Regions from separate parts of the Homo sapiens genome. Here region 2 is linked to region 1. Evidence: fine-mapped QTL for protein levels in blood plasma. Region 1 holds a variant in brackets. A gene starts in the other region. All regions are shown on one strand. Distances are from middle to middle. Region 1 has its middle 18 kb from the start of GPT2. Region 2 holds the start of PRSS53 (serine protease 53).

Evidence for each region. PIP is the posterior inclusion probability: the model's chance that the variant is causal. The UK Biobank Pharma Proteomics Project read protein levels with antibody pairs (Olink). The fine-mapping took linkage between variants from a reference panel, not from the people measured, so its PIPs are less certain.
Region 2: PRSS53 starts here. The variant in region 1 is fine-mapped to the plasma level of the PRSS53 protein (UK Biobank, PIP above 0.99).

The regions. Positions count from the first base shown.
Region 1 is chr16:46,858,063-46,873,779 of GRCh38, reverse strand. No RefSeq gene overlaps it. Among named protein-coding and RNA genes, the nearest start is that of GPT2, 18 kb to the left of the region's middle. RefSeq lists enhancers at 3,242-3,847, 3,848-4,454, 9,084-9,213, 13,569-13,863. The variant TTG/G (reference allele first, on the strand shown) is at 8,664.
Region 2 is chr16:31,078,685-31,094,401 of GRCh38, reverse strand. It overlaps PRSS53 (serine protease 53), which reads left to right and starts at 5,459. Exons shown (of 11, transcript NM_001039503.3): 1 at 5,459-5,650; 2 at 6,576-6,596; 3 at 6,703-6,865; 4 at 7,504-7,769; 5 at 7,911-8,065; 6 at 8,219-8,438; 7 at 9,142-9,292; 8 at 9,378-9,622; 9 at 9,699-9,844; 10 at 10,067-10,283; 11 at 10,593-10,965. The coding sequence starts at 5,593. The coding sequence ends at 10,612. VKORC1 (vitamin K epoxide reductase complex subunit 1) reads left to right here. Exons shown (of 3, transcript NM_024006.6): 2 at 981-1,090; 3 at 3,060-3,548. The coding sequence ends at 3,268. It overlaps ZNF646 (zinc finger protein 646), which reads right to left. Exons shown (of 3, transcript NM_014699.4): 2 at 12,701-15,717; 3 at 10,206-11,431. The coding sequence ends at 11,310. RefSeq lists enhancers at 672-1,380, 5,282-5,782.

The sequences.
Region 1 (15,717 bases):
GGAGGCCGAAGCTGCAGTGAGCTGTGATCATGCCACTGTACTTCAGCCTGGGCAACAGAGCAAAAAAAAAAAAAAAAAAAAAAAAAAATCACATAGCTAGGGTGGCAAAGCTAAGACTTGAACTTAGGACTCCATGGGTTCAGTGCTCAGTCTCACAAGACTGCCCCCACTTCAGACACCAGCCACAAGTGGGGTCCCCAGGGCACCCACACTTCTGCCCAGCTGGTTAAAAATTCGGGAGTTCCCATGACTTACCCCCTGTATTCAATAATTCACTAGAATTACTCACACAACTCAGGAAAGTGCTATAATCATTATTACAGTTTTGTTTTAAAGAATAAAACAAGAACAGCCAAAGAACAAGGCGTGGGAGGCTGGGAGGGGCACAGAGCTTCCATGCCCTCTCTTGAGCATGCCACCCTCCCACTACATTGATGTGTTCAGCATCCCCTAAGTATAGTTACAAACAGAAATTACAGTAATACTGGTTTTCATATTTGTCTATTTACCTTTGCTATGGAAATTTATATTTTCATGTGGCTTTGAGTTACTGTCTGGTGTCATCGCATTTCAACTTGAAGGATTCCCTTTAGCATTTCTTGTAGGGTGAGTCTAGTGATAACAAATTTCCTCAGCTTTTGTTTATTTAGAAATGTCTATTTTCTCCTTTGTGTTTCATTTTTAATATTATTATTTATTTATTTATTTATTTATTTTTGAGACAAAGTCTCACTCTGTCGCCCAGTGGTGCGATCTCGGCTCTCCCAAATTCAAGCGATTCTCCTGCTTCAGCCTCCCGATTAGCTGGGATTACAGGCATCTGCTACCACGCCTGGCTAATTTTTTGTATTTTCAGCAGAGACAGGGTTTCATCATGTTGTCCAGGCTGGTCTCGTCCTGACCTCAGGTGATCCGCCCACCTTGGCCTCCCAAAGTGCTGGGATTACAGGCGTGAGCCACTGTATCCGGCCAATTATTATTATTATTTTTTAGAGACGGTGTCTCACCATGTTGTCCAAGCTGGTCTTGAACTCCTGGGCTCAAGTAATCCACCTGCCTCAGTCTCCCAAAATGCTGGGATTACACGTGTGAGTTACTGTGCCCAGTCTCTTCTTTGTTTTTGAAGAACAGTTTTGCTGGGTGTAGAATTATCAGTGACAGGTTTTCTCTTTCAGCACCTTACATACAATTGTGTGCCATATAACAACGTTTCAATGACAGAGCATGTATACAATGGTGATCTCATAAGATTATAATACCATATTTTTACTTTGCAAAAGAGAAACACTCCGTCTCAAAAAAAAAAAACAACTTACTTTTCTTCCCAGTCTCAGGTATGTCTTTATCAGCAGCATGAAAATGGACTAATACAGTAAATTGGTACCAGTAGAGTGGGGCGTTGCTGAAAAGATACCCGAAAATGTGAAAGCAACTTCGGAACTGGGTAACAGGCAGAGGTTGGAACAGTTTGGAGGGCTCAGAAGAAGAAAGGAAAATGTGGGAAAGTTTGGAGCTTCCTAGAAACTTGTTGAATGGCTTTGACCAAAAGCCTGATAGCAATATGGACAATAAGGTCCAGGCTGAGGTGGTCTCAGATGGAGATGAGAAACTTGTTGGGAACTGGAGCAAAGGTGACTCTCGTTATGTTTTAGCAAAGAGACTGGCGGCATTTTGCCCCTGCCCTAGAGATTTGTGGAACTTTGAACTCCAAAGAGAGATGATTTAGGGTATCTGGCAGAAGAATTTTCTAAGCAGCAAAGCATTCAAGAAGTGAGATGGGTTCTGTTAAAGGCATTCAGTTTTATAGTGGAAGCAGAGCATTCAAGTTTGGAAAATTTGCAGTGACCATGTAATAGAAAAGAAAAACCCATTTTCCAAGGAGAAATTCAAGCCGGCTGCAGAAATTTGCATAAGTAAGTAGGAGCCAAACGTTAACCCCCAAGACAATGCGGAACATGTCTCCAGGGCATGTCAGAGGCCTTCATGGAAGCCCCTCCCATCACAGGCCCGGAGGGCTAGGAGAAAATGGTTTGGTGGGCCAGGCCCAGGGTCCCCGTGCTGTGTGCAGACTAGGGACTTGGTGCCCTGCGTCCCAGCGTGGCTGAAAGGGGCCAACATAGAGCCAGATTCCAGGACAGGAGAGGAGGATAGGCTTTTTTTTTTTTGAGACAGAGTTTCGCTCTTGTTGCCCAGGCTGGAGTGCAATGGTGTTTTCTCGGCTCATTGCAACCTCTACCTCCCTGGTCCAAGCAATTCTCCTGCCTCAGCCTCCTGAGTAACCGGGATTACAGGCATGAGCCACCACACCTGGCTAATTTTGTATTTTTAGTAGAGACGGGGTTTCTCCATGTTGGTCAGACTGGTCTTGATCTCCCGACCTTAGGTAATTGGCCTGCCTCACCCTCCCAAAGTGCTGGGGTTACAGGCATGAGCCACCACACCCAGCCAAGGATAGGCTTTTGAGGACTGTTTGTGATAGATGATACGGCAGTGATGCAAGCAAGCCCCAGACAGATGAGGCCAGGGGCTGCTGGCCACAGGCTCCTTCCCTACAAGTGCAAAGAAAAGTGCCAGCTCATAAGCTGGGGATGAGCTGGATGTGTTCATCTAGCTGCAAGGCTCTGGTTCCAGCTCCCAGCTTTTCTTTCTTTCCCTTCCTTCCTTCCTTCCTTCCTTCCTTCCTTCCTTCCTTCCTTCCTTCCTTCCTTCCTTCCTTTCTTTCTTTCTTTCTTTCTTTCTTTCTTTCTTTTTTGATGGAGTCTCCCTGTGTCACCCAGGCTGGAATGCAGTGGCATGATCTCGGCTCACTGCAAGCTCCGCCTCCCTGGTTCACGCCATTCTCCCACCTCAGCCTCCCGAGTAGCTGGGACTACAGGTACGTGCCACCATGCCCAGCTAATTTTTTGTAGTTTTAGTAGAGATGAGGCTTCATCATGTTGACTAGGCTGGTTGCAAACTCCTGACCTCACGTGATCTGTCTGCCTCACCCTCCCAAAGTGTTGGGATTACAGGTGTGAGCCACCACACCCAGCCTTAGCTTTTCTTTTTTGCCTTAGACTCAGGTACTCAGCTTGCTGGATTAGATACTTGGTTAGACAGTTTGGCCACCAATGCAGAGCTCTCCTTTCTTGTTGCCTCGGGACACAGAGAGCAGAGGATCTCAGCTTTTGAACAGTTTGGGGAAACAGAGTATACCAAAAAATATGAGAAAAATACAAATTTTACAAAGACCTGACAATCTTGTACTAGTCTAGAGTATCCAGAACCCTATTATGGTCAGAGCCTCTCAGAGATGAAGAAATGCTCCAGCCAATTCCATTGTTTGAGGGTTTGTTGTTGTTGCTCTTGGTTTTTTTTTTTTTTTTTTTTGAGACAGGGTCTCACTCTGTCACCCAAGCTGGAGTTCGGTGGCATAAACACAGGTAGGGCAAGTGATATGGTTTGGCTGTGTCCCCACCCAAATCTTATCTTGAACTGTAGCTCCCATAATCCCCACATGTTATGGGAGGGACCCAGTGGGAGGTAATTGAATCATGGGGGTGGTTATCTCCATGCCGTTCTAATGATAGTAAGTGAGTTCTCACGAGATTTGATGGTTTTATAAGGGGCTTTTCCCCTGCTCTGCTCTGTAGTTCTCCTTGCTGCCACCATGTGAAGAAGGACGTGTTTGCTTCCCCTTCCACCATGCTTGTATGTTTCCTGAGGGGCTTCTCCAGACATGCTGAACAGTGAGTCAATTAAACCTCTTTTTTTTTTTTTTTTTTTTTGAGATGGAGTCTTGCTCCATCGCCATGCTGGAGTGCAATGGCACGATCTAGGCTCACTGCAACTTCTGCCTCCCGGGTTCAAGCAATTCTCCTGCCTCCCGGGTTCAAGCAATTCTCCTGCCTCAGCCTCCTGAGTAGCTGGGACTACAGCCATGTACCACCACACCCAGCTAATTTTTTTTGTATTTTTAGTAGAGACGGGGGTTTCACCATGTTGGCCAGTGTGATCTCGATCTCCTGACCTTGTGATCTGCCTGCCTCAGCCTCCCAAAGTGCTAAGATTACAGTCGTGAGCCACCGTGCCTGACCTAAACGCTTTGCCTTGCCGATGGAGTCTTGCTCTTGTTGCCCAGGGTGGAGTGCAATGGCATGATCTCCGCTCACTGCAACCTCCACCTCCTGGGTTCAAGCGATTGTCCTGCCTCAGTCTCCTGAGTAGCTGGGATTACAGGTGTCCACCACTAAGCCTGGCTAATTTTGTATTTTTAGTAGAGACAAGGTTTTGCCATGTTGGTCAGGTTGGTCTTGAACTCCTGACCTCATGATACACCCGCCTCAGCCTCCCAAAGTGTTGGGATTACAGGCATGAAGCCACTGCACCTAGCCTCTAAACCTCTTTTCTTTATAAATTACTCAGTCTTAGGTATGTCTTTATTAGCAGCATGAGAGCAGACTAATACAATAAATTGGTACCACAGAGAGTGGGGCGCTGCTGTAAAGATACCCAAAAATGTGGAAGCGACTTTGGAACTGGGTAACAGGCAGAAGTTGGAACAGTTTGGAGGGCTCAGAAGAAGACAGAAAAATGTGGGAAAGTTTGGAACTTCATAGAGACTTGGAAGGCTCAGAAGACAGGAAGATGTAGGAAAGTTTGGAACTTCCTAGAGACTTGTTGAGTGGCTTTGATCAACATGCTGATAGTGATATGGACCATGAAGTCCAGGCTGAGGTGTGATCAGATGGAGATGAGGAACTTGTTGGGAACTGGAGCAAAGGTCACTGTTACTATGCAAAGAGACCGGCAGCATTTTGCCTCTGCCCTAGAGATCTGTGGAACTTTGAACTTGAGAGATGATTTAGTGTATCTGGTGGAAGAAATTTCTAAGCAGCAAAGTGTTCAAGAGGAAGCAGAGCATAAAAGTTTGAAAATTTTCCAGCCTGAGGATGCAGTAGAAAAGAAAAACCCATTTTCTGAGGAGAAATTCAAGCCTGCTGCAGAAATTTGCATAAGTAACAAGGAGCCAAATGTTAATGACCAAGACAATGGGGAAAATGTCTCCAGGGCATGTCGGAGACCTTCATGGCAGCTCCTTCCATCACAGGCCTGGAAGGAGGCCTAGGAGAAAAAAATGGTTTCCTAGGCTGGGTCCAGAGCCCCCCTACTGCGTGCAGCCTCAAGACTTGGTGCCCAGCATCCCAGTCACTCTAGCTATGGCTAAAAGGGGTTAAGGTACAGCTTGGGCCATGGCTTCAGAGGGTGCAAGCCAAAGCCTTGGCAGCTTCTGCATGGTGTTGAGTCTGTGGGTGCACAGAAGTCAAGAATTGAGGTTTGGGAACCTCTGCCTAGATTTCAGAGAATGTATGGAAACACCTGAATGTCCAGGCAGAATTTTGCTGCAGGGGTAGAGCCCTCATGGAGACCCTCGGCTAGGGCAGTGTGGAAGGGAAATGTGGGGTTGGAGCCCCCACACAGAGTCTCCACTGGGGCACTGCCTAATGGAGCTGTGAGAATAGGGCCACCATCCTCCAGACCCCAGAATGGTAGATCCACCGACAGCTTACACCATGCACCTGGAAAAGCTGCAGACACTCAACACCAGCCCATGAAAGTAGCCGGGAGGGGGCTGTGCCCTGCAAAGCCAAAAAAGTGGAGCTGCCCAAGGTGGTAGGAACTCACCCCTTGCATCAGCATAACCTGGATGTGAGACATGGAGCTAAAGGAGATCTTTTGGAACTTTAAGGTTTAGTGACTGCCCTGTTGGATTTTGGACTTGCATGGGGCCTGTAGTCCCTTTGTTTTGGCTAATTTCTCCCATTTGGAATGGGTGTATTTACCCAATGCCTCTACCTCCATTGTATCTAGGAAGTAACTAACTTGCTTTTGGTTTTACAGGCTCATAGGCAGAAAGGACTTGCCTTGTCTCAGATGAGGCTTTGGACTTGGACTTTTGAGTTAATGCTGGAATGGGTCAAGACTTTGAGGGACTGTTGGGAAGGCATGATTGCATTTTGAAAGTGAGGACATGAAATTTGGGAGGGGCCAGGGGCAGAATGATATGGTTTGACTTTGTCCCCACCCACATCTCATCTTGAACTGTAGTTCCCATAATCCCCATGTGTCGTAGGAGGAACTCAGTGGGAGGTAATTAAATCATGGGGGTGGTTACCTCCATGCTGTTCTCATGATAGTGAGTGAGTTATCACAAGATCTAATGGATTTATTTATTTATTTATTTACTTGTCTATTTATTTTGAGATGGAGTCTCACCCTGTTGCCTGGACTGGAGTGCAGTGGCGCAATCTTGGCTCACTGCAACCTCCACCTCCCAGGTTCAAGTGATTCTCCTGCCTCAGCCTCCTGAGTAGCTGGGATTACAGGCGCCCGCCACTACGCCCAGCTAATTTTTTGTATTTTTAGGAGAGATGGGGTTTCACCATGTTGGCCAGGCTGGTCTTGAGCTCCTGACCTCATGATTCACCCACCTTGGCCTCCCAAAGTGCTGGGATTACAGGTGTGAGCCACTGTGCCCGGCCGAGATCTGATGGTGTTACAGGGGGCTTTCCGCCCCCTTTGCTCTACACTTCTCCTTGCTGCTGCTATGTGAAGAAGGATGTGTTTGTTTCCCCTTCTGCCATGATTGTAAATTTCCTGAGGCTTCCCCAGCCATGCTGAACTATGAGTCTATTAAACCTCCTTTCTTTATAAATTACCTAGTCTTGGGTATGTCTCTATTAGCAATGTGTAAACAAACTAATACAGTAAACAAAACATGAAACTTCCTTCCTTTTTTTTTTTTTTTTTTTTTGAGACAGAGTCTAGCTGTGTTGCCCAGGCTGGAGCACAGTGGTGTGATCTCAGCTCACTGCAACCTCTTACCTCCCAGGCTTGAGCATTCTCCTGCCTCAGCCTCCTGAGTAACTGGGACTACAGGCATGTGCCACCATGCCTGGCTAGTTTTTGTATTTTTAGTAGAGATGGAGTTTCACTATATTGGCCAGGCTGGTCTCAAACTCATAGGCTCAAGTCAGCCGCCCACCTCGGCTTCCCAAAGTGCTGGGATTACAGACCTGAGCCATCATGCCAGGCTCCTTCCATTTTTAATGTGGCTTTTTCTTAGATGTGCATTCACTCAGTTGCTGGTCTTTTTATTGATTTCCACAGTCCCTATTAAGTTATTTTAGCCAGTTTCTAGTTGTTCATTTAATGTTTCCATAGTGGAAACAAGGACCTGAAGCTTTCTAGTCCACCATCTTGCTGGTGACACTCCAAGCTTGTTTCTTTGTTTGTTTGTTTGAGGCAGAGTCTCGCTCTGTTGCCCAGACTGGAGTGCAGTGATGCAATCAGGGGTCACTGCAGCCTCAACCTTCTGAGCTCCAGCCATCCTCTAGCCTCAGCATCCTGAGTAGTTGGGATTATAGGCATGTGTCACCATGCCCAGCCTTTAAAATAAATTATAGTAAATTCTTCAATATGTATCTCCAAAAATAAGAACATTCTACTCCATAACTACAATACCATTATATTATATGTACACATTTAACAATAGTTTCATAATACTACCCCAGTCCATATTCAAGTTTCCCTAATGTAATTATTATATATTTTATTTCATCATTATTTTTTAAACTTTTTATTATATAACATAACACAGATATTTAAAAAACACCAAACATACATATGGTAAATTATTAAAAATGAACACCCTTACAGCTACAACTCAGGACTAGAGATAGAACTTCCAGCTACCTCTGAAACTATCCACATACCACATCCCAATCATAACCATCCCTCCCTCAAAGTGACCATGATTATAAGCAAGATGCCTGAGTTTTTGCACGTTGAGAGGTTGTTAGTGTTTGTGTCCCTTATACTCAGATACAAAATCTTGGCTCACACTTTCCTTTCTTTGGAGACAGGGTCTTACTCTGTCACCTAGGCTGGAGGGAATGGTGCAATAAGCTCACTGCAGCCTCAACCTCCCAGGATCAAGCAATCCTCCTGCCTCAGCCTCCTGAGTAGCTGGGACTACAGGTGTGTGCCCCAACACCCACCTACTTTTTGTATTTTTTGTAGAGATGGGTTTTCACCATGTTGCCCAGGCTGGTCTCCAACTCCTGAGCTCAAGTGATCCACCTGCCTTGGCTTCCCAAAGTGCTGGGATTACAGGCATGAGCCACCATGCCCAGCCAATATGTAATCTTTAAGAAAGTTGTCTTGAATTATAGGTTTTGAGCTGGGTATGGTGGCTCATGCCTGTAATCTTGGCACTTTGGGAGGCTGAGGCTGGGGCATCACTTAAATCAGGAGTTCAAGACCAGCCTGGCCAACATAGTGAAACCCTGTCTCTACTAAAAATATAAAAATTAGCTGGGTGTGGTGGGACACACCTGTAATCTCAGCTACTTGGGAGGCTGAGGCAGGAAAATCGCTTGAACCTGGGAGGTGGAGGTTGCAGTGAGCCAAGATCACACCACTGCACTCCAGCCTGGGCAATACAGTGAGACTGTGTCTCAAAAAACAAACAAACAAACAAAACCAATTATAGTTTTTGGTATTTGCCACATTGTTCCTTTAATCTGGTTTTCTTTTGCAGTTACTTCTATTTATAATATGTTGGAACTGCCAATCTGAAATAATCAAAAGGATCAGAATCCAGTTTTTTTTTTTTTTTTTTT[TTG/G]AGACGGGTCTCACTCTATCACCCAGGCTGGAGTGCAGTGGCACTATCTCAGCTCACTGCAAACTCCGCCTCCCAGGATCACGCCATTCTCCTGCCTTAGCCTCCCGAGTAGCAGGAACTACAGGCGCCCACCACCACGCCCAGCTAATTTTTTTGTATTTTTAGTAGAGATGGGGTTTCACCATGTTAGCCAGGATGGTCTCAATCTCCTGACCTCGTGATCCGCCTGCCTCGGCCTCCCAAAGTGCTGGGATTACAGGCGTGAGCCACCGTGCCCCGCCCAGAATCCAGTTTTAAAGAGTTTATTAAAGCAAAATGTTGGGAATGACTATCTGGGAGACACAGCGTGTAGGGAAATGGGGTCAGTGTTCTGAAGTTGAGAGTTAAGTTCTTGCTTAAGTAGGCAGAAAACAAAGAAGTAGGATCATTTTCTATATGAGGCTGGTTCATGAGTTAACAACCATTTAGTTACAGCTTCTTTCCTTTTCTATATGGCTTGGTTTCTTTTCTTTACAACTGGTTTTCATTTCCTTTCCTACATAGTTATTTATTTTTGAGACAGGATGTTCCTCTTTCGTCCAGGGTGGAGTACAATGGTGCAAACATGACTCATTGCAGCCTTGACCTCCCAGGTTCAAGGGATCCTCCCACCTGAGCTTCCTGAGTAGCTGGGACTACAGGTGCTTGCCGCCATGTCTGGTTAATTTTTAAAAAAATAATAAGAAGAAATAGGATCTCACTGTTGAGCAGGCTGGTCTCAAACTCCTGGCCTCAAAAAATCCTCTCACCTAGGCTTCCCAAGGTGCTGAAATTACAGGTGTGAGCCACCTCCTGGCCCTCCTTTCCAATTTAAGGTATTTAGCATTCCATTTTATGACAATGTGATGGCCAAAAAGTCTATGTGAGAAAGGTAAGAGGGAAGTCAATCTATAATGAAGATCAACAGTGAAGAGTCTTTCCTGATGCCCTTTAGTCATTTGAAACATTTTACAAAACAATGTAGGTAAGTAATAAGACTAATCTATAATCAGAAGCAAAGGGTTACAGCTGCCTAAGTTACAGTTGCCTGTCAGGTAACATTCCTCTAAGGCTCAAAATAATTTAGAGTTCCAATAGCTTAGATTTTTAATTATTTTCAGAGATCTTATTTGCATGGCTTCAATATTTGTCACTTTTTTGCACATACTTTTTGTTTTCTTTTTTCCTTATTTTCAATTTTAATTTTTTTCACCTTCTATTTCTTATCAGGCAATACTTGTAGCATTTATCTACTTTTTTGTTGTTGTTGTTGAGACAGGGCCTCACTATGTCTGTAGTACAGTGGCACAATCACAGCTCACTGAAGTCTGTGCTTAAGTGATCCTCCCACCTAAGCCACCGGAATAGCTGGGATTATTGGCACACACCATCATGCCGGGCTAATTTTTTTTAATGTTTGGTAGAGATGGGGTTTCACTATGTTGCTCAAACTCCTGAGCTCAAGCAATCTTCCTGCCTCAGCCTCCCAAAGTGCTGGGATTACAGGTGTGAGCCACTGTGCCCAGCTTATTTATTTACTTTTGTTTTCCTTCTGGTTTAGTTTCATTTCTGAAATAAATTTTTTATTTATTACTATTTTTTCCTTGAGTTTTATCACCTAATTGCTATATTTTTCTAGTTCTGATTTACGTATGTATGTTGTTCTTTGTATCTTTCAAAATGTCTTTTAGCTAGTTTCAAAATACTAGTTTATACTGTTTATCTGTTTTGTGGAAGGGAGCTTGGTTGATTAGTGCTGTAGCTTGAATATTTAAACCTCCAAACTTCATGTTGAAATTTGATCCCCAGCCGGGCAGTGGCTCACGCCTGTAATCTTAACACTTTAGGAGGCCACTTGAGGCCAGGAGTTTGAGACCAGCCTGGCCAACATGGTGAAACCCTGTCTCTACTAAAAATACAAAAGTTAGCTGGGCGTGGTGGCTCACACTTGTAATCCCACCTACTCAGTAAGCCGAGGGAGGAGAATCACTTGAGCCGAGATTGTGCCGTGTACTCCTGCCTGGGCAAAAGAGCGAGACTCCGTCTCAAAAAAAAAAAAAAGATATCTGATCCCCAGCGTTGGCAGCAAGGCCTAACAGGAGGTGTTTGGGTTATGGGGGTGGATCCCTCATGAATGTCTTGGTGACCTCTTTGTGGTAATGAGTAAGTTCTTACTCTACTAGTTCCCAAGAAAGTAGGTTGTTATAAAGAGCCTGGTGCCTCCTCCTCTCTCTTCTTGCTGCTCTCTCTCATCATGTGATCTCTGCCCATGCTGGCTGCCCTTCCCCTTCAGCCATGAGTGGAAGCTTCCTAAGGCCTCACCAGAAGCAGATGCTGGCGTCATGCTTCTTATACAGTCTGCAGAGCTGTGAGCCAAATAAACCTCTTTTCTTAATAAATTACTCAGCCTCAGGTCTTTCTTCATAGCAACACAAAAGGACTAAGACAATTGCTTTAAAAGTTGATGTTGCGGCCGGGCGCGGTGGCTCATGCCTGTAATCCCAGTACTTTGGGAGGCTGAGGCGGGTGGATCACAAGGTCAGGAGATTGAGACCATCCTGGCTAACACGGTGAAACCCCATCTCTACTAAAAATAATAATAATTAAAAAAATTAGCCGGGCATGTTGGCGGGCACCTGTAGTCCCAGCTACTCGGGAGGCTGAGGCAGGAGAATGGTGAACCAGGGAGGCGGAGCTTGCAGTGAGCCGAGACTGCGCCACTGCACTCCAGCCTGGGTGACAGAGTAATACTCCGTCTCAAAAAAAAAAAAAAAAAAAAAGTTGATGTTGCCTCAATTGCTCCAACCCCTCCAGTCTTATCAGAGACTCCTTGTACTCACCCATATTGAAGCATGCAGAACACCTCCCACTTTAGCTGCTTTTCTCAGTTTGGCTCACTCTGCCCTCCTGCGAAGACCTGTTTGCTGGCCCCTGAGGTGCCCTATCTCTTCCCTCTGCATTATTCTATATAAATGCGAATATCATATAGATCTTATAGTGGTGGGAATTGTTGTCGTCATGCTCTTACCTTTTACAGTTCATGGGGATACCTTATAATCTGGCTTTGTTGAAAATGCTCTTCATAGGTTTTTGGTTTTACCATCTAGTTGCTCTGCCTTTTTTTTTTTTTTTTTTTTTCCTGCAAGGTGGATTCTAGGAGATCAAAAAACTATACCACTGCTGTGTCTTTCCAGAATTATGAAGGGAAAAAGAACCATGAGAGCTCAGGAAGCAAATTATTATATTTGCCCCCATGGCCAGGCCAGGACCATGTGCTGGAACCACACTCAGATGTGAATAGGATGTGGTTCCCAGGAAGCAAGCTACCTTATATTAGATTCTACACCCAAAGAAGGCAAAACATAACACATGTTTATTACAGTGTTTCATATCAGGTTTTATTTGAGGGTTCCACTACTTTAAAAAAAAGTATAAAAACATTCATCTAAGATAGTGTAATTATATGACTTGTTCTTTAACTCAAACTTTTTATTTTTATTTTTATTATTTATTTATTTATTTATTTTTGAGATGGAGTTTAGCTCTTGTTGCCCAGGCTGGAGCGCAATGGTGTGATCTTGGCTCACCGCAACCTCTGCCTCCTGGGTTCAAGTGATTCCCCTACCTCAGCCTCTTGAGTAGCTGGGATTATAGGCATATGTCATCATGCCTGGCTAATTTTTTTTGTTTTTAGTAGAGACGGGGTTTCTCTGTGTTGGTCAGGCTGGTCTTGAACTGCTGACCTCGGATGATCCGCCTGTCTCGGCCTCCCAAAGTGCTGGGATTACAGGTGTGAGCCAGCATGCTTGGCCTATTTTTATTTTTAATTTTGAGACAGGGTCTCATTGTGTTGTCCAGGCTAGAGTGCAGTGGTGTGATCACAACTCACTGCAGCCTTGACCTCTGGGTTCAAGTGATCCTCCTGCCTCAGCCTCCTGAGTAGCTGGGATTACAGGCACACGCCACCACACCTGGATAATTTTTTTATTTTTCATGTTTGTAGAGATGTGGTCTCATTATTTTGCCAAGCCTCTGGTCTTGAACTCCGGAGCTCAAGTGATCTTCCCATCTCGGTCTCCCAAAAGTGCTGGGATTTACAAGCGTGAGCCACCATGCCCAGCCCCTGACTTCAACTTTTTAAAGATAACTTTCAATTATATGACCTTCCTTCATAAGAGATGAACACATAGATGAGGCTAAAGTCCCCTTGTCTCTGGGTTCCCTTTGGATGCCTGGCTGACTTAAATGCCATCTCAGCAGGGCTGAGGACCATGCACCGGAGTCTGCTGAGGATGGGACATAGTCATTTTAACATTAACCAGAGTGAAATGCAATCATGAAAGTGAATCCTTTAATGCAGTTGTGAGGGATTATCTGTGCTGTTGCCATTCTCCATTTGTACAAAAATGTAAAGCTTGAGAATGGTTGAGGATTTTAGAAACATGTTCCTGGCTCTTTCTCTGTTGTTTAGCATGGTGAGGACCTTGATTCACAGTTTCATTTTTGACTGACAGACTTACTGTTCCATCCCAGCATTGGTAACTAATGGGCTTTCTGGCTCGGTTTTTGCTAGGCTCATTGAGATTGTTTTGATTAGGATGCATTATTATTCAAGTGGCAGAAAACCCCACTCATATTGCCTTTTAAAAACATATACATTGGCTCATGGAGTGTGGAGGTATTTGACACTTCAGGAGTGGCTGGATTCAGGATTCAAATGAGGTGATGGCAATATTGCCCTTCCCAGTCTCAGGGCCCATTTATATTATGTGACATGAGTCCAACACTATGTGCTCTTGGTGATGCCCCAGTCACTGCTGTGGGTCCTGGTCTGCAGCCCAGGTCCCCTTTTTGCTATTTTCTCTGTTTTTGTCGACTTCCCTTCAGGCAGCTTCCCCTCATGTAGTGAAAGGGCTCCAGTAGATCCTTGCTGAACTCCCTGCCATCCAAAATCAGCAGAGAACAGAGAACTTCAGAGGCCTCAGGAAAAGTCTCATCGTGACTCACTGGTTCTCACTGCATCACAGCCCCAGCCTGGGTCCCGCCCACATCACTGAGGTCAGGGCAAGGCTGATGTCCGACTGGCTCATACCTAGTCAAAGTCTCCACTGCTGGTTACCAATGAAGATGGCAGCCTCATCAGAATTCCTTGAATGAAGAGGAAGGGAGGGGGGATGTGACAAGGGATAGCTCAGCATAGCTCAGATGGCACCCCCTCTGAAAGGCAGCAGCCTCAATTTGAAAAAAAAAAAAAAGGGCAGGGCACAGTGACTCACACCTATAATCCCAGCACTTTGGGAGGCCAAGGCTTGCGGATCATCTGAGGTCAGGAGTTCAAGACCAGCCTGGCCAACAAGGTGAAACCCCGTCTGTACTAAAAATACAAAAATCAGCTGGGCGTGGTGGCAGGAACCTGTAATCCCAGCTACTCGGGAGGCTGAGGCACAAGAATTACTTGAACCCAGGAGGGAGAGGTTTCAGTGAGCCGAGATTGCACCACTGTACTCCAGCCTGGGCGACAGTGAGACCCTGTCTCACACACACACACAGGGCCAGGCATGGTGGTTCACACCTGTAATCCCAGCACTTTGGAAGGTAGAAGTGGGAGGATTTCTTGAGCCCAGGAGTTGAGACCAGCCTAGGCAATGTAGCAAGACCCCATCTCATTTTTTTTTTTTTTAAGGGAGAGTGTCGTTCTTTCGCCCAGGCTGGAGTGCAGTGGCGCGATCTCAGCTCACTGCAACCTCCATCTCCCAGTTCAAGCGATTCTCCTGCCTCAGCCTCCTGAGTAGCTGGGATTACAGGCACCCACCACCGCACCCAGCTAATTTTTGTATTTTTTAGTAGAGATGGGGTTTTGCCATGTTGGCCAGGCTGGTCTTGAACTCCTGACCTCAAGTGATATGCCCACCTTGGCCTCCCGAAGTGCTGGGATTACAGGCATAAGCCACCGCTTCTAGCCCCCGCCTCAATTTTTTAAAAAATTGAATTAACGACAATAACAAAAAGAGGCAGCATGTCACAGTGGTTGAAAGTGTGTACTGCGGTGCCAAGAGGCAGCATGTCACAGTGGTTGAGGGTGTGTACTGTGGTGCCAAACCACCTTGGTTCTAACAATGGCTTTACCATTTAGGGTATGTGACCTTGGGTAAGTTACCAATCTCTGTGCCTCAGTTTCCTCACCTGTACAATGGGAGATAATGGCCTCACCTTCATAAAATTATTGACATAAAATTGATTTAATATATATAAAATACTTAGAACTCTGACTGGCATGCAACAAGATCTAGATATCTTTGCCATTATTGAGATTTCATGATCCTTAGGAGAGAATAGGGGAAATTCCTAATGCAGCAAGTTTTCAACAAAGGGCAGTGTTCCTTTGGCCTAGGACAGTGATGCTGTGGCTTGAAGTGACTCCTTTCATCAGTTTACCCATCTTAGTCTGCAATGAGCAACTTCCAGATATCACCCCTTTGCATGTGTTGGAGCTCAGAAAATGATACCCCAAGACGAAGGCTGCAGAAGCAGCCTCAGAGGCTAAAGGTTTTCACTGACCTTCTGCCCTCCTGTCTTTTAGGCCCATTCTCCCCAGGAACTAGTTATAGAAACTAGAATCCCTCTTCCTCAAGGCAGATCATAGACACCAAAACCCTTTTTCCCCCAAGCCAGCCATAAAACCTAAAAATATTCTGTGAAAAAACTGGCCTACCCTGTTTGACTGTAGGTCATAAGATCCCTATTGGAAAGAGGATCCTGCCCCATACCTAGAGGGAAGGAATGCTGCTTGGAGAGGCCAAGAAGAATCCAGACCGACAGATCTTGCTGGGTTTCCCCACTCTGTCTATTAGCGAGCGTTAGCGCAGACCCTTTTTGCCCAATCCTATTTCTACATGGCTGTCCAGACTTTGTCGAATCTAAGCGCAAAAATGGACAACTTCCCCTGCATCTTTGGGTCTTCATTTGGAAGTCTCCTGTGTATACATGTCATGCTTCTTCTCCAATTAACCTACCTTTTGTGAGCTGATTTTTCA
Region 2 (15,717 bases), 16 Mb after region 1:
TGGTGTTCGAAATAAGAGTGCGAGGCAAGGGACCAGACAGTGCTGGGGACTGGGATTATTCCGGGGACTCGCACGTGAATTGGATGCCAAGGAATAACGGTGACCAGGAAAGGCGGGGAGGCAGGATGGCGGTAGAGATTGACGATGGTCTCAAGGACGGCGCGCAGGTGAAGGGGGGTGTTGGCGATGGCTGCGCCCAGGAACAAGGTGGCCCGGTCTGGCTGTGCGTGATGGCCAGGCGTTAGCATAATGACGGAATACAGAGGAGGCGAGTGAGTGGCCAGGGAGCTGGAGATTCTGGGGTCCAGGGCAAAGATAATCTGCCCCCGACTCCCAGTCTCTGATGCAAAACCGAGTGAACCGTTATACCAGCCTTGCCATTTTAAGAATTACTTAAGGGCCGGGCGCGGTGGCCCACTCCTGTAATCCCAGCACTTTGGGAGGCCGAGGCGGATGGATCACTTGAAGTCAGGAGTTGACCAGCCTGGCCAACATGGTGAAAGCCTGTCTCTACCAAAAATAGAAAAATTAATCGGGCGCTATGGCGGGTGCCTTAATCCCAGCTACTCGGGGGGGCTAAGGCAGGAGAATCGCTTGAACCCGGGAGGCGGAGGTTTCAGTGAGCCGAGATCGCGCCACTGCACTCCAGCCTGGGCCAGAGTGAGACTCCGTCTCAAAAAAAAAAAAAAAAAAAAAAAAAAAGAGACTTACTTAAGGTCTAAGATGAAAAGCAGGGCCTACGGAGTAGCCACGTCCGGGCCTGGTCTGGGGAGAGGGGAGGATAGGGTCAGTGACATGGAATCCTGACGTGGCCAAAGGTGCCCGGTGCCAGGAGATCATCGACCCTTGGACTAGGATGGGAGGTCGGGGAACAGAGGATAGCCCAGGTGGCTTCTTGGAAATCACCTTTCTCGGGCAGGGTCCAAGGCACTGGGTTGACAGTCCTAACCTGGTTCCACCCCACCCCACCCCTCTGCCAGGTGGGGCAGGGGTTTCGGGCTGGTGGAGCATGTGCTGGGACAGGACAGCATCCTCAATCAATCCAACAGCATATTCGGTTGCATCTTCTACACACTACAGCTATTGTTAGGTGAGTGGCTCCGCCCCCTCCCTGCCCGCCCCGCCCCGCCCCTCATCCCCCTTGGTCAGCTCAGCCCCACTCCATGCAATCTTGGTGATCCACACAGCTGACAGCCAGCTAGCTGCTCATCACGGAGCGTCCTGCGGGTGGGGATGTGGGGAGGTAACTAACAGGAGTCTTTTAATTGGTTTAAGTACTGTTAGAGGCTGAAGGGCCCTTAAAGACATCCTAGGTCCCCAGGTTTTTTGTTTGTTGTTGTTTTGAGACAGGGTCTGGCTCTGTTGCCCAAAGTGAGGTCTAGGATGCCCTTAGTGTGCACTGGCGTGATCTCAGTTCATGGCAACCTCTGCCTCCCTGCCCAAGGGATCCTCCCACCTTAGCCTCCCAAGCAGCTGGAATCACAGGCGTGCACCACTATGCCCAGCTAATTTTTGTTTTTGTTTTTTTTTGGTAGAGATGGTGTCTCGCCATGTTGCCCAGGCTGGTCTCAAGCAATCTGTCTGCCTCAGCCTCCCAAAGTGCTGGGGGGATTACAGGCGTGAGCTACCATGCCCCACCAACACCCCAGTTTTGTGGAAAAGATGCCGAAATTCCTTTTTAAGGAGAAGCTGAGCATGAGCTATCTTTTGTCTCATTTAGTGCTCAGCAGGAAAATTTGTATCTAGTCCCATAAGAACAGAGAGAGGAACCAAGGGAGTGGAAGACGATGGCGCCCCAGGCCTTGCTGATGCCATATGCCGGAGATGAGACTATCCATTACCACCCTTCCCAGCAGGCTCCCACGCTCCCTTTGAGTCACCCTTCCCAGCTCCAGAGAAGGCATCACTGAGGGAGGCCCAGCACCATGGTCCTGGCTGACACATGGTTCAGACTTGGCCGATTTATTTAAGAAATTTTATTGCTCAGAACTTTCCCTCCCTGGGCAATGGCAAGAGCTTCAGAGACCAGTCCCTTGGAGGGGACCTGTTGAAGCCTTCTTTTTTTTTTTTTTTAAGAAATAATCTTGCTCTGTTGCCCAGGCTGGAGTGCAGTGGCACAATCATAGCTCACTGTAACCTGGCTCAAGCGATCCTCCTGAGTAGCTAGGACTATAGGCATGTCACTGCACCCAGCTAATTTTTTTTTTTTTTTTTTTTTTTTTTTTGCGACATAGTCTCGCTCTGTCACCAGGCTGGAGTGCAGTGGCACGATCTTGGCTCACTGCAACCTCTGCCTCCCGGGTTCAAGCAATTTTCCTGCCTCAGCCTCCTGAGTAGCTGGGACTACAGGCGCGTGTCACCACGCCCAGCTAATTTTTGTATTTTTAGTGGAGACAGGGTTTCACCATGTTGGCTAGGATGGTCTCAATCTCTTGACCTGGTGATCCATCCGCCTTGGCCTCCCAAAGTGCTAGGATTACAGGCGTGAGTCAACCTCACCGGGCATTTTTTTTTTGAGACGAAGTCTTGCTCTTGCTGCCCAAGCTGGAATGTGGTGGCATGATCTCGGCTCACTGCAACCTCCACCTCCTAGGTTCAAGCGATTCTCCACCTTAGCCTCCCCAGCAGCTGGGATTACAGGTGCCCATCAACACACCCGGCTAATTTTTGTATTTTTATTAGAGATGGGGTTTTGCCATGTTGGCCAGGCTGCTCTCGAACTCCTAACCTCAGGTGATCCACCCCCATTGGCCTCCCAAAATACTGGGATTACAGGCATGAGCCACCGTGCCCAGCTGAATTTCTAAATTTTTGATAGAGATCGGGTCTTTCTATGTTGCCCAAGCTGGTCTTGAACTCCTAGCCTAAAGCAGTCTTCCCACCTCGGCCTCCCAGAGTGTTTGGAATACGTGCGTAAGCCACCACATCTGCCCTGGAGCCTCTTGTTTTAGAGACCCTTCCCAGCAGCTCCTGGCATCTAGGTAGTGCAGTGACATCATGGAGTGTTCGGGAGGTGGCCAGTGCCTGAAGCCCACACCGGACCCTCTTCTGCCTTGCAGGTTGCCTGCGGACACGCTGGGCCTCTGTCCTGATGCTGCTGAGCTCCCTGGTGTCTCTCGCTGGTTCTGTCTACCTGGCCTGGATCCTGTTCTTCGTGCTCTATGATTTCTGCATTGTTTGTATCACCACCTATGCTATCAACGTGAGCCTGATGTGGCTCAGTTTCCGGAAGGTCCAAGAACCCCAGGGCAAGGCTAAGAGGCACTGAGCCCTCAACCCAAGCCAGGCTGACCTCATCTGCTTTGCTTTGGCATGTGAGCCTTGCCTAAGGGGGCATATCTGGGTCCCTAGAAGGCCCTAGATGTGGGGCTTCTAGATTACCCCCTCCTCCTGCCATACCCGCACATGACAATGGACCAAATGTGCCACACGCTCGCTCTTTTTTACACCCAGTGCCTCTGACTCTGTCCCCATGGGCTGGTCTCCAAAGCTCTTTCCATTGCCCAGGGAGGGAAGGTTCTGAGCAATAAAGTTTCTTAGATCAATCAGCCAAGTCTGAACCATGTGTCTGCCATGGACTGTGGTGCTGGGCCTCCCTCGGTGTTGCCTTCTCTGGAGCTGGGAAGGGTGAGTCAGAGGGAGAGTGGAGGGCCTGCTGGGAAGGGTGGTTATGGGTAGTCTCATCTCCAGTGTGTGGAGTCAGCAAGGCCTGGGGCACCATTGGCCCCCACCCCCAGGAAACAGGCTGGCAGCTCGCTCCTGCTGCCCACAGGAGCCAGGCCTCCTCTCCTGGGAAGGCTGAGCACACACCTGGAAGGGCAGGCTGCCCTTCTGGTTCTGTAAATGCTTGCTGGGAAGTTCTTCCTTGAGTTTAACTTTAACCCCTCCAGTTGCCTTATCGACCATTCCAAGCCAGTATTGGTAGCCTTGGAGGGTCAGGGCCAGGTTGTGAAGGTTTTTGTTTTGCCTATTATGCCCTGACCACTTACCTACATGCCAAGCACTGTTTAAGAACTTGTGTTGGCAGGGTGCAGTGGCTCACACCTGTAATCCCTGTACTTTGGGAGGCCAAGGCAGGAGGATCACTTGAGGCCAGGAGTTCCAGACCAGCCTGGGCAAAATAGTGAGACCCCTGTCTCTACAAAAAAAAAAAAAAAAAAAAATTAGCCAGGCATGGTGGTGTATGTACCTATAGTCCCAACTAATCGGGAAGCTGGCGGGAAGACTGCTTGAGCCCAGAAGGTTGAGGCTGCAGTGAGCCATGATCACTGCACTCCAGCCTGAGCAACAGAGCAAGACCGTCTCCAAAAAAAAACAAAAAACAAAAAAAAACTTGTGTTAACGTGTTAAACTCGTTTAATCTTTACAGTGATTTATGAGGTGGGTACTATTATTATCCCTATCTTGATGATAGGGACAGAGTGGCTAATTAGTATGCCTGAGATCACACAGCTACTGCAGGAGGCTCTCAGGATTTGAATCCACCTGGTCCATCTGGCTCCAGCATCTATATGCTTTTTTTTTTGTTGGTTTGTTTTTGAGACGGACTTTCGCTCTTGTTGTCCAGGCTGGAGTGCAATGGCACAATTTCGGCTCACCACAACCTCCACCTCCCAGGTTCAAGTGATTCTCCTGCCTCAGCCTCCCGAGTAGCTGGGATTACAGGCATGCGCCACCAGGCCTGGCTAATTTTGTATTTTTAGTAGAGACAGTGTTTCTCTATGTTGGTCAGGCTGGTCTCGCACTCCCGACCTCAGGTGATCTGCCTGCTTTGGCCTCCCAAAGTGCTGGGATTACAGGCGTGAGCCACCATGCCCGGCCAGCATCTATAATATATGCTAAACCTTACCCACAGCTGCCTCTGTCTTGGGGTCAGGGTTCTTGAATGGTCTGGGCCAGCCTGAGTTAGGAGTGGGAAGAGGAAGAGGAGGCACGCGCCAAAGTGTTCTTCCCGCCTGACCGAGTCCTCTGCGCCTATGAGGAAGGTGGGCACCGCTGTCACCCTGTTTCCCAGGAAGCCAGCAGGCCCAGGGAGATACTGGGATTTGCCAAAGGCTCACAGCGAGCAAGCAGCAGTGGGTGCTGGCTCCTCACCACTCAGCCTGGCACACACTGTCTCTGAGCAGACCTGGGAGAAGGCATGTGAAACCCACCTAGCCCTGGCTGGAAGAGAAGTGGGGGAGTGGAAATGAAAAGTGGGGACTGGGAGGAGCTGCCCACGTGCCCTCCATGGTTCCAGGATGGCACTTTCATGCTGGGAGTGAGCTTGCCCTGTGCCAGGCTGTCATTGAGACGTTTTCCATTCAACAACTGTTTCTCAGACAAGGCACAGGCAGGTTAGCTCTCCCAGGCCACTCAAGTAGTAAGGAAACAGATTTAAACCCAGACAATTTGGCTCCACGGCTAAGGCCCAGAGAGGGGTGGTGACAAGCCTAGGGTCACACAGCCACAGCCCCAGAGCTAGGAACTGCTGGCTAGGGCAAGCAGACAGCTGAATCCTAGCCAACTGGAGGTGGAGCAGAGGTGGAGCCAGGGAGACCCAGGTGGCCTCTCTCAGAGTGGAGCACAGGTGGCAGAGTGGCCCGGGGCAGCATGAAGTGGTGCTGGGGCCCAGTGCTGCTCATCGCGGGTGCCACAGTCCTCATGGAGGGTAAGCCGCCATGTGCTGGGGTATGGGTGTGGCCTGGTGGGGGCTCAGGGGCCATCTCTGCCCCAGCAGTCCCTGCTTCTTGGTGGGGGGACCGCCTGTGGGCGACAGTCCACCAGTGGGGATGTAACTCCGTAGGACTCTGTGGGGTGGTATATGTGGCCACCTGTGTCAACATGGATGAGATTTTCTCGGGCCAGCTGCAGTTTGCGTTGGCGGGGCCTGTGGTCTTGTGTGTGTGTGAGGTGCTGCCTGCGTGTGTCCTGTGCCTGCCTCCCCCTCGACTTCCACAATGACGTCAGGCAAACTCTGGGCTCCTCTGGCCTCAGTTTCCCTTTCTTTTCATCCATCCTCTGGGCAGCCTGGCTCAGCTGTCTCATGGGGTGCCTGTGTGCCTGTGAGGGGCGGTGGGCAGGGGCCCTCTCTCTGGCGGGCTCTCAGACAGTTTCTGGGAAGGTGGGGAAGACTGAGTCTCTAGACCAGGGTGAGGTAAGTCTCCATTTCTTGGGGCCCTCCCCACTTGGAAATGATGCAGGCCTCTAATCCTTCCTCTTAGGCCTCTGCTGCTAAGAGGACAATTAAGCTAATGCTCTCTACACACACAGGCCGCCTGGCTGACTCAGTGGCGGGGGCAGGAGTTGGGGGTTCTGAAGCCTGGAGGAGGGCTGGCCTACTCCCAAGCTGAACCCCAAGCCCCAGAGTGCTGAGCACAGCTGAAGGAGAATTAATTACTGAGTGTGCACACTGAATAGGTTCCAATAAAAGCTGTCTCGGCCTCATATAAATATTTTCATTCTGGGAGGGGCTGGTAAGGTAATCAGAGTCACAGGCAAGGACCCTGGGCCCGCCCCCCAGCCCATCCCCTCTCCTCCCCAAAGCTAGGCAGGCCTGGAGTCCCTGCATCTTACCTGTGTCTCTCTCTTCCCAGGTCTTCAAGCCGCTCAGCGTGGTAAGGTCTGGGGACACGGGGCCTAGGTCTTACTTGGGTCTGGGTTGGGACTGGGGTGAGGTCAGGACAGGTATCTGCTGTCAGTGTGACTAACTCCTTTCCACAGCCTGTGGACAGCGTGGCCCCGGCCCCCCCAAGCCTCAGGAGGGCAACACAGTCCCTGGCGAGTGGCCCTGGCAGGCCAGTGTGAGGAGGCAAGGAGCCCACATCTGCAGCGGCTCCCTGGTGGCAGACACCTGGGTCCTCACTGCTGCCCACTGCTTTGAAAAGTAAGTCATGGCTGGGGTCAGGCAGGGTCTCCGGCTCTGGGGAGTGGACAATTTGTCTCAAGCCCCACAAGGCTAGTCCCTGCCTCTAGAGTAATAATAAAGAACCATTTACTGAGAATCTGCCATGTACTGGGTACATATTGTCAAGTTAATTGTAACAACCACCTTTCATGGTAGAAGATTTACAAATCAGAAAACTCAGGTTGCAAGGGAATGACCTCGCTTAAAGTCACAGACTGAGGCCGGGCACAGTAGCTCACGCTTGTAATCCCAGCCCTTTGGGAGGCCACGGAGGGAGGATCGCTTGAGCCCAAGAGTTCAAGACTAGCCTGTGCAACATAGCAAGACCATGTCTCTACAAAAACTGTAAAATTAGCCAGGCATGGTGGTGCACGCCTGTAGTCCCAGCTACTCACGAGGCTGAGGTGGGAGGATCGCTTGAGCCTGGGAGGTCAAGGCTTGTAGTGAGTCATGGTCATGCCACTGCACTGCAGCCTGGGCGACAGGACGAGACCCTACCTCAAAAAGAAAAAGCCGTGGAGTGCTCTCTGCTATCTTCCACCTACCTGTGGGGTCTCCCATGGTGTCACTGTCTACCCTTGCACTCAGCAGCCTGGACCTTGTCCTTCCCCTTCCAGGGCAGCAGCAACAGAACTGAATTCCTGGTCAGTGGTCCTGGGTTCTCTGCAGCGTGAGGGACTCAGCCCTGGGGCCGAAGAGGTGGGGGTGGCTGCCCTGCAGTTGCCCAGGGCCTATAACCACTACAGCCAGGGCTCAGACCTGGCCCTGCTGCAGCTCGCCCACCCCACGACCCACACACCCCTCTGCCTGCCCCAGCCCGCCCATCGCTTCCCCTTTGGAGCCTCCTGCTGGGCCACTGGCTGGGATCAGGACACCAGTGATGGTAAGTGCTGGCCCAGACTGAAGCTCGGAGAGGCACTCTGCTTGCCCAGCGTCACAGTCTCAGCTCCCAACTGTCCTGGCTTCCAGTCTCCCTTGCTTCCCAGATCCCAGACTCTAGCCCCAGCCCCGTCTCTTTCACCAGCTCCTGGGACCCTACGCAATCTGCGCCTGCGTCTCATCAGTCGCCCCACATGTAACTGTATCTACAACCAGCTGCACCAGCGACACCTGTCCAACCCGGCCCGGCCTGGGATGCTATGTGGGGGCCCCCAGCCTGGGGTGCAGGGCCCCTGTCAGGTCTGATAGGGAGAAGAGAAGGAGCAGAAGGGGAGGGGCCTAACCCTGGGCTGGGGGTTGGACTCACAGGACTGGGGGAAAGACCTGCAATCAGAGGGTGTCTGCCATAGCTGGGCTCAGGCATCTGTCCTTGGCTTTGTTGCCTGGCTCCAGGGAGATTCCGGGGGCCCTGTGCTGTGCCTCGAGCCTGACGGACACTGGGTTCAGGCTGGCATCATCAGCTTTGCATCAAGCTGTGCCCAGGAGGACGCTCCTGTGCTGCTGACCAACACAGCTGCTCACAGTTCCTGGCTGCAGGCTCGAGTTCAGGGGGCAGCTTTCCTGGCCCAGAGCCCAGAGACCCCGGAGATGAGTGATGAGGACAGCTGTGTAGGTACGAGTGGGGCATGCTGGGAGTGGGCAGAAGCCACTGTGAAGCAAACCTCAGTTAGGACTAGAGAACTGGCATAGGCATCCACACCGCCGAGCCTAATTAGGGGGCTCTTTCACCCCCTGGGATGGGAACAGCCCTGTTAGGGCTGAGAGGCACAGGCACTTTGGAACTCTACAGGTTTGGAGTTTAGGTGAGAAGAGGAATCTCTGAGACCTGACTTGGGTTTCTGGGGAAGTGGCAGGCTTCCAGCAGGGACCCAGCGAGCCTGCACAGGGTAGGGCTCCCAGTCAGAATTCCGGCATTAAGTGACTGGCATGCAAATTGAATGCAAAGTAATTCCTGGGACGGATATTATGTCTTGATGATAAGAGATGCACTAATGAGTCAGGAATACGGGAGGCAGGCCCATCCTGGAGGGTGCAGACGGGTGGAGCAGGGGAGTGACAAGTAGGGGCATTCCCACGAGGCTGGGACAGGGGTCCCATCAGACCAACAGGGCTAAAAGCTCAGGCCCTGGCTTGCGAATCGCAAGTCTGCCACTTGCCTGTAGTTACAGAGCAAGGAAGTCTCTTAACCTCTCTGGAACTTTGGTTACCTTCAGTAATGAGGGGAACAAAATTCAATTTCAAAAGCTACTGTGAGGATTTGATGGGAAGTGGGAAGTGCTTAGCAAGAAGTCAGATGAGGCACTTATCTGTTTCAGCCTGTGGATCCTTGAGGACAGCAGGTCCCCAGGCAGGAGCACCCTCCCCATGGCCCTGGGAGGCCAGGCTGATGCACCAGGGACAGCTGGCCTGTGGCGGAGCCCTGGTGTCAGAGGAGGCGGTGCTAACTGCTGCCCACTGCTTCATTGGGTGAGTCTTGGATCCCTCTCTGCTGTGCCCCCTGCCCCTGCCGGCAGCCCTGTCACCTGGTGCCGTCCACACTGCCTCTGCACAGGCGCCAGGCCCCAGAGGAATGGAGCGTAGGGCTGGGGACCAGACCGGAGGAGTGGGGCCTGAAGCAGCTCATCCTGCATGGAGCCTACACCCACCCTGAGGGGGGCTACGACATGGCCCTCCTGCTGCTGGCCCAGCCTGTGACACTGGGAGCCAGCCTGCGGCCCCTCTGCCTGCCCTATCCTGACCACCACCTGCCTGATGGGGAGCGTGGCTGGGTTCTGGGACGGGCCCGCCCAGGAGCAGGTAGGTGGGCACAGGGCCAGGGCTGCTGTCCATCCAACCTGCAGGCCGGGGCAGCCAGCTTTCCCTTGCTCCACAGGCATCAGCTCCCTCCAGACAGTGCCCGTGACCCTCCTGGGGCCTAGGGCCTGCAGCCGGCTGCATGCAGCTCCTGGGGGTGATGGCAGCCCTATTCTGCCGGGGATGGTGTGTACCAGTGCTGTGGGTGAGCTGCCCAGCTGTGAGGTGAGCCCCAGGCCCCCACACCTTACCTAACAGGCCCCTGGCATCCCCTCACCCAATAGCTCAAGAACGGACCTTCCAGGCTTGGCCTCTGGACCCACCTCCCACCTGAAACTAAGCCTTTTTGCCAATTAGCCCCCAAACAGCCAGAGGTTCCCTAGCCTGCTCTACCGTCCTGCACAGCTGCCTATAAAAAGTCACCCAGTGTCACCTGACCCCTGACAGGGCCTGTCTGGGGCACCACTGGTGCATGAGGTGAGGGGCACATGGTTCCTGGCCGGGCTGCACAGCTTCGGAGATGCTTGCCAAGGCCCCGCCAGGCCGGCGGTCTTCACCGCGCTCCCTGCCTATGAGGACTGGGTCAGCAGTTTGGACTGGCAGGTCTACTTCGCCGAGGAACCAGAGCCCGAGGCTGAGCCTGGAAGCTGCCTGGCCAACATAAGTATGTGGCCCCGGGGCCTCCTGCCAAACCCTGCCTCTCCAGGACCCTTCTCTCTCCAGTGAGAACGTGCCGTTCTAACCCACTCCAGCTGCCTTGGGTAGGGTGGAGCAACAGGCAGACCCATTTGATTCAGATTCTGGTTCTTTGTCATCGTGTGACTTGGAGCAGGCTGCTCAACCGCTTTGAGCCTCAGTATTCTCATCTGTCATGGCGGCCAAGACAGACCCTGTTCCTTCGAGGAATGGGGAGGGAGGGAGGGACCAAAGCCGTGAGGATGAGGACAACTCCACCCTCCTTCCTTCCCCACAGGCCAACCAACCAGCTGCTGACAGGGGACCTGGCCATTCTCAGGACAAGAGAATGCAGGCAGGCAAATGGCATTACTGCCCCTGTCCTCCCCACCCTGTCATGTGTGATTCCAGGCACCAGGGCAGGCCCAGAAGCCCAGCAGCTGTGGGAAGGAACCTGCCTGGGGCCACAGGTGCCCACTCCCCACCCTGCAGGACAGGGGTGTCTGTGGACACTCCCACACCCAACTCTGCTACCAAGCAGGCGTCTCAGCTTTCCTCCTCCTTTACCCTTTCAGATACAATCACGCCAGCCACGTTGTTTTGAAAATTTCTTTTTTTGGGGGGCAGCAGTTTTCCTTTTTTTAAACTTAAATAAATTGTTACAAAATAGACTTTAGAAAATAAGTTACAAATTGTAGCAAAAGGCTCCCTTCCACAGGCAACTTTCCCACCGGTGGGGCTCTGCATCCGCCTCTCCCTGGTGTTGCAATCTGGCTGCTGAGGGTGGCGCTGAGAAGAGCACGGTGATGAGGCTGGGGGAAGGAGGTCCTTCAAGGACAGGGACGCGAGGAACACCCCACCCCCTCCTTGGGAAAGAAGCCAGATCTGGGTCCTCTTCACAAGGGGAGAGGAGAAGATATGGGGATGCCCGAACTACTCCTGAGAAAATGTGGAGATCAAGCCCCTCCCTGCACGCGCTCCCTCCCCCAGATTCTGATCTTTGGAGACTTGAAGTTCAGAGGGAGAAGCTGAGGTCTGCAGGCCACTGGGGTGAAGGATCCAGGAGTGGGGTCGTGGGGGTGGGTGGAGGGGGCAATGGCAAGTCCCCTCTGCCCGTCACTGGTGCCACTGGGGCTCCTGGGGGGAGAGAGAGAGGAGGTCACCAACTGAGGGGCAGACCCCGCACAGCGTGTACCCCCTCCCAGCCCTGCAGGCCATTCCCCTGCCCCTGGCCCCGGAGGCCCAGATGAGAACAGGGATTCTAGGCCTCCTAATTATTTTCCCAGCCCTGGCAAACTGGCTCCTCCCTCATATCCCTTGAGGTCATGAGAAATCTTCTATCCTTAAAGCCATTCCTTCAGCTTTCAGGTGACTCCCACCTGCCCTCTGCTCTGACAAGGCCTGTCAAGGGCCCACCATCTCAGGGCCACCCACCCTCGGTGGCCACTAGATGGAATGGGTCCGCCTCTACTAGGGGAGGTGGAGAGGCCAGCCCAGGTCCTGCTGAGGGAACCGGCCGCCCCACTCCCTGGCAGCTGCGGCTTCCAGCAGTGCTGGGTGGAGGCGATTCCCCACGGAGATGCCCTCTGATCAGGGATGTGACACGGGCTAATGACTGTTGTTGCTGCAGCTGGGCCTGGACTTCAAGGAAACAATTATCTGTGACTCAGTCCTCCAGTTAAAGGTGTGCAGAGGGTGGCAGGGTGCGCAGGTAGAAAGGGTGGTTTGGTTGGATCCTAAAAAGGCCGTTGGCAGCAGAGGGAAAAGGGGCTGAATAAAGGTTAGAGAAGAGATGGGAGCAACACTGACAGGGAAGGACCAGAGGTCTAGTTTCCAAGGAGAGGAGCAGCAGAGACAAGGCGCAGGGAAAGAGGGACAGGGAGTAGGGTGCCAACCAGTGAACCAGTTTCCGTGGCCAAGTCAGCAGGGAAGCCGTGGAGCCCATGCCCCATCCCTTGTTCCCTGGCACCCGGCCTGCTCCAGGAAAGAATGGAACCTAGACCAAACCAATGGCTTCCTCTTTTTCTCTGGAAGTCATTACTTTACTGGCTGACTCAGGAGGGTTTCCAGACACAGCAGCCAGGGGGTACCCAGTGACCTTCCCCTGAACAGAAAGACCATTCCATTCTGGCTACAGTGTAATGGAGGAGCCCAGGTAGCAGCCTCGGCCTGACCACGCCCCCACGTGCTGCCCAACCCACCCTGCTATTTGTTATACCTGACTTGCGGGTGCTCAGCTCAGCACATCCTCAAGCTACTTCTCTCACCCCATAGCCAAGCCCCCACCCACCTCTTAGAATCCCCGGGGCTCTCTCCTCTCACTCCTTGCTCCCCCACCGACTTTGGGGCTGGACTTCCCCCTCCACTGTGTGCCCACCTCCTCCTGGGACCCTTCATGCCCCCTACCGGAGCCGGCCACCGTCCACTCCTCCTGGTGCTGCTGCTGGTGCTGCACGAAGCTGATTCGGCGGCGGAAGTGGCGGGGACAATGGGGGCAGGTGAAAGGCCCCTCCCGGGGTGCATGGACCCGCCCGTGGCCCTCCAGCCGGGCAGCTGTCCGAAAGGCCTTGCCACAGATGCTGCAGCAGTGGCGCTTGGGGTCCGTGTGGGTCCTGCTGTGGTTCTTAAGAGACAGCAGGTTAGGGAGAAGTTTGGGACAGAGGGAGCACGGGTACAACCCTGTGGTGTGGGCCTTCTGGTGGTTCAGCAGGCTGCCAGCATGGCGGTAGGAGCGCCCGCACTGGGTGCAGCGGAAGGGCCGCTCCTTGTCCTCAGCCGCCATGGACGTCACCGCTTGTCCTCCCCTGGCTCTCTCCACACTCTCTCCTGGGCCTCTGGGGGTTTCTGATGGGGCCTCCTGGGCTTTCCCTTGACCAGGGAGAACCACCTGGTCCTCCCCAGTCCCGGCTTTGGGATCTCTGGCCTCCTCCATCTGGGCTGGCACCTGGCTGTGGCCCCGGGCATGAGCCTGCAGGTGGCTGGCCAGTTCCTGGTGGGACTCAAAGGCTTTGCCACAGTCAGGACAGGCAAAGGTCTGGGCGTCTATGTGGTTGTGGCTGTGGCTCTTTGTGGCCACAGGATTTAAGAACTCCTTGGAGCAGAGCAGGCAATAGTGTCGGTCTGTCTTGTTGGTGTTGTGGTTCAAGAGGCTGCCTGACTGGCAGTAAGTCTTGCCACACTGGCTGCAAGAGGAGTGGCTCCCTGGCTGCAGCTGAGAGCTGTTGTCTCTGTTGTCCCAGCTATCCATGTGACTCAGAGTAGGTCCATTGAGCTGGCAGTCACCAGCGTGGCAAGGACTCCTGTGGACACTGTCCTCTGGCTCCTCTGACCTAGTTAGGAACTGAGGAACCCAGCCTCCACTATGATTCCCCAGTCCCCCACCTACCGGCCACCCACCTGCCTTCCCTGCACCCCAGGACAGTGGCTCTGGGGCTTCTGAGCTTGCTGCCCTGATGGGGCTCTGACTGCGCTCCCCTGGCCTTGGGACTCCATCCTCCAAGTGGGGTACTGGCTCAGCACCACCCAATTGGGTCTCTAGTCCCTGGCTGCCAGTCAGGTTCGCCTCACTGGCCGCTGTGCCATCCAGGCCTCCCTGGCCATTGGCTGGCTCCCTTTCTGTCTCCTCATGCTCCCGCAGGTGCCGCTCCAAAGATCCCCGGCCAGGGAAGCTGCGGCCACAGAGGGCGCAACGCACAGCTGTGCGCCTGGACCGTCCAGCCCGTCGCCGCCGATTCTCTGAGTGCAGCCTCTGGTGGTCCTTCAGGGCCATGCGGTTGGAGTAGGTCTTGGGGCAGGTGGGGCAGCTGTACTGGCCCGTCTCGTGGCTGCGCCGGTGGTTCAGGAGGCTGCCGGCGTGGCGATAGGTCCGCCCGCACTGCCCACAGCGGAAGGGCCGATCTTCCCGAGTCGCCTTTCGGGTGCCCCCACCCCCACGCCGTTCCATGTGGACCCGCTGGTGGCTGGCCAGCTGTTTCCGCAGGCGGAAGGCCTTCCCACACTCGCTGCAGCGGAAACGTCGGGGATCTGCATGGATGCGCCGGTGGTTCTTGAGGGACATGAGGTTTGAGAAGCCCTTGGAGCAGGCCTGACAGCCAAAGTGGCCGGTCTGGTGGCTCTGCCGGTGGTTGATGAGGCTGCCGGCGTGCTTGTAGGATCGGCCACACACCTCGCAGCTGAAGGGCCGCTCAGAGCTGGCTTCAGTCTGGCAGCCCTTCTCGGCAGTCTCCAGCCTGGGCTCTATCTCCTCCCCCTTCACAGTGGTCTCCTCCCACACCTCTTCTTTCACCCTGGCCACTTCCTCCAGGGGCTCCACTTTAAGTTCTTCCTGGAGCTTCTCGACTTCTGCTTGCCCCGGCCCCTCCTCTGCCATGTGCTGGGGCTTGTTGCTGCCTCCTTCTGGGATGGGCCCAACCTGCAGCTCACTGCTACCTGCTGCCTCTGGGATGGGCCCAACCTGGGGCTCAGAGCCTTTGCAGCGAGGGTGGTTCCGCAGATGATTACGGTAGGCAGCCAGGTTGGGGTAGCAGCGGGAGCAGACAGGGCAGAGAAAGTCTCCAGTCTGGTGGATCTTGCGGTGGTTCACCAGGCTGCCCCCATGGCGATAGGTCTTGCCACACTGGTTGCAGCGGAAGGGGCGGGGCTGAGCCTCCAACAAACTTTCCCCACCCTGGATGCAGAGGCTGTCTCCCAAGGGGGTGCCTGCTCCCTCTTGAGACTTGGCATCTCCACCCTCTCCAGAGACAGAATTCACTATGTCCTCCAAGACACTGTCCACGACCATCTCCATGGCATCACCTGCCACTCCCAAGGGGCTGGGAGCCTTGTCTGCAGTAGTCCCAGAACTCTGACTTTGGTGGTGACGCTCCAGGCTCCCCAGGTCATCGTAGGTCTGACCACAGCAGCCACAGATGTGCCCATACCCTGCACTGTCCAGCGCTTCCACCTCCCGCTGCAGCTGATTCAGCAGCTCTGCTTCCGAGAGCTGCAGTGGTGGACTGCGTGCAGGGGCTGCCTCTGCCACTCCTTCCTCTTCCCCCTCCTCCTCTGAGCCCTCAGTCATGCCAGAGGAGCTGTGGGCCTGGCGCCGGTGAAGCCTGTAGCCAGCCCGCCCAGGGAAGATCATGCCACAGAGGCAGCAGAGGAAAGGCTGTGCTGAGGTCGCCTCCCCAGGCCTATGGTTCTGGAAGTGGCTGCGGAGGGCAGGCAGAGAGTCAAACTCCTTCGGGCAGAGGGAGCACTGATAGATGCCTGGTGGGTGGCAGGGCCTGTGGCTCAGCAGGCCAGTGGCATGGGGGAAAGAATGCCCACAGTCAGAGCATGTGTGAGCGGCCCCAGCCTGCCAGCCAGTGACAGCATTGGCAGAGTGGGAAGAGGAGTTGGGTTGGCCAGTGGCTGGCTTCTGGTCTTCATCCACCCCAGTGAGG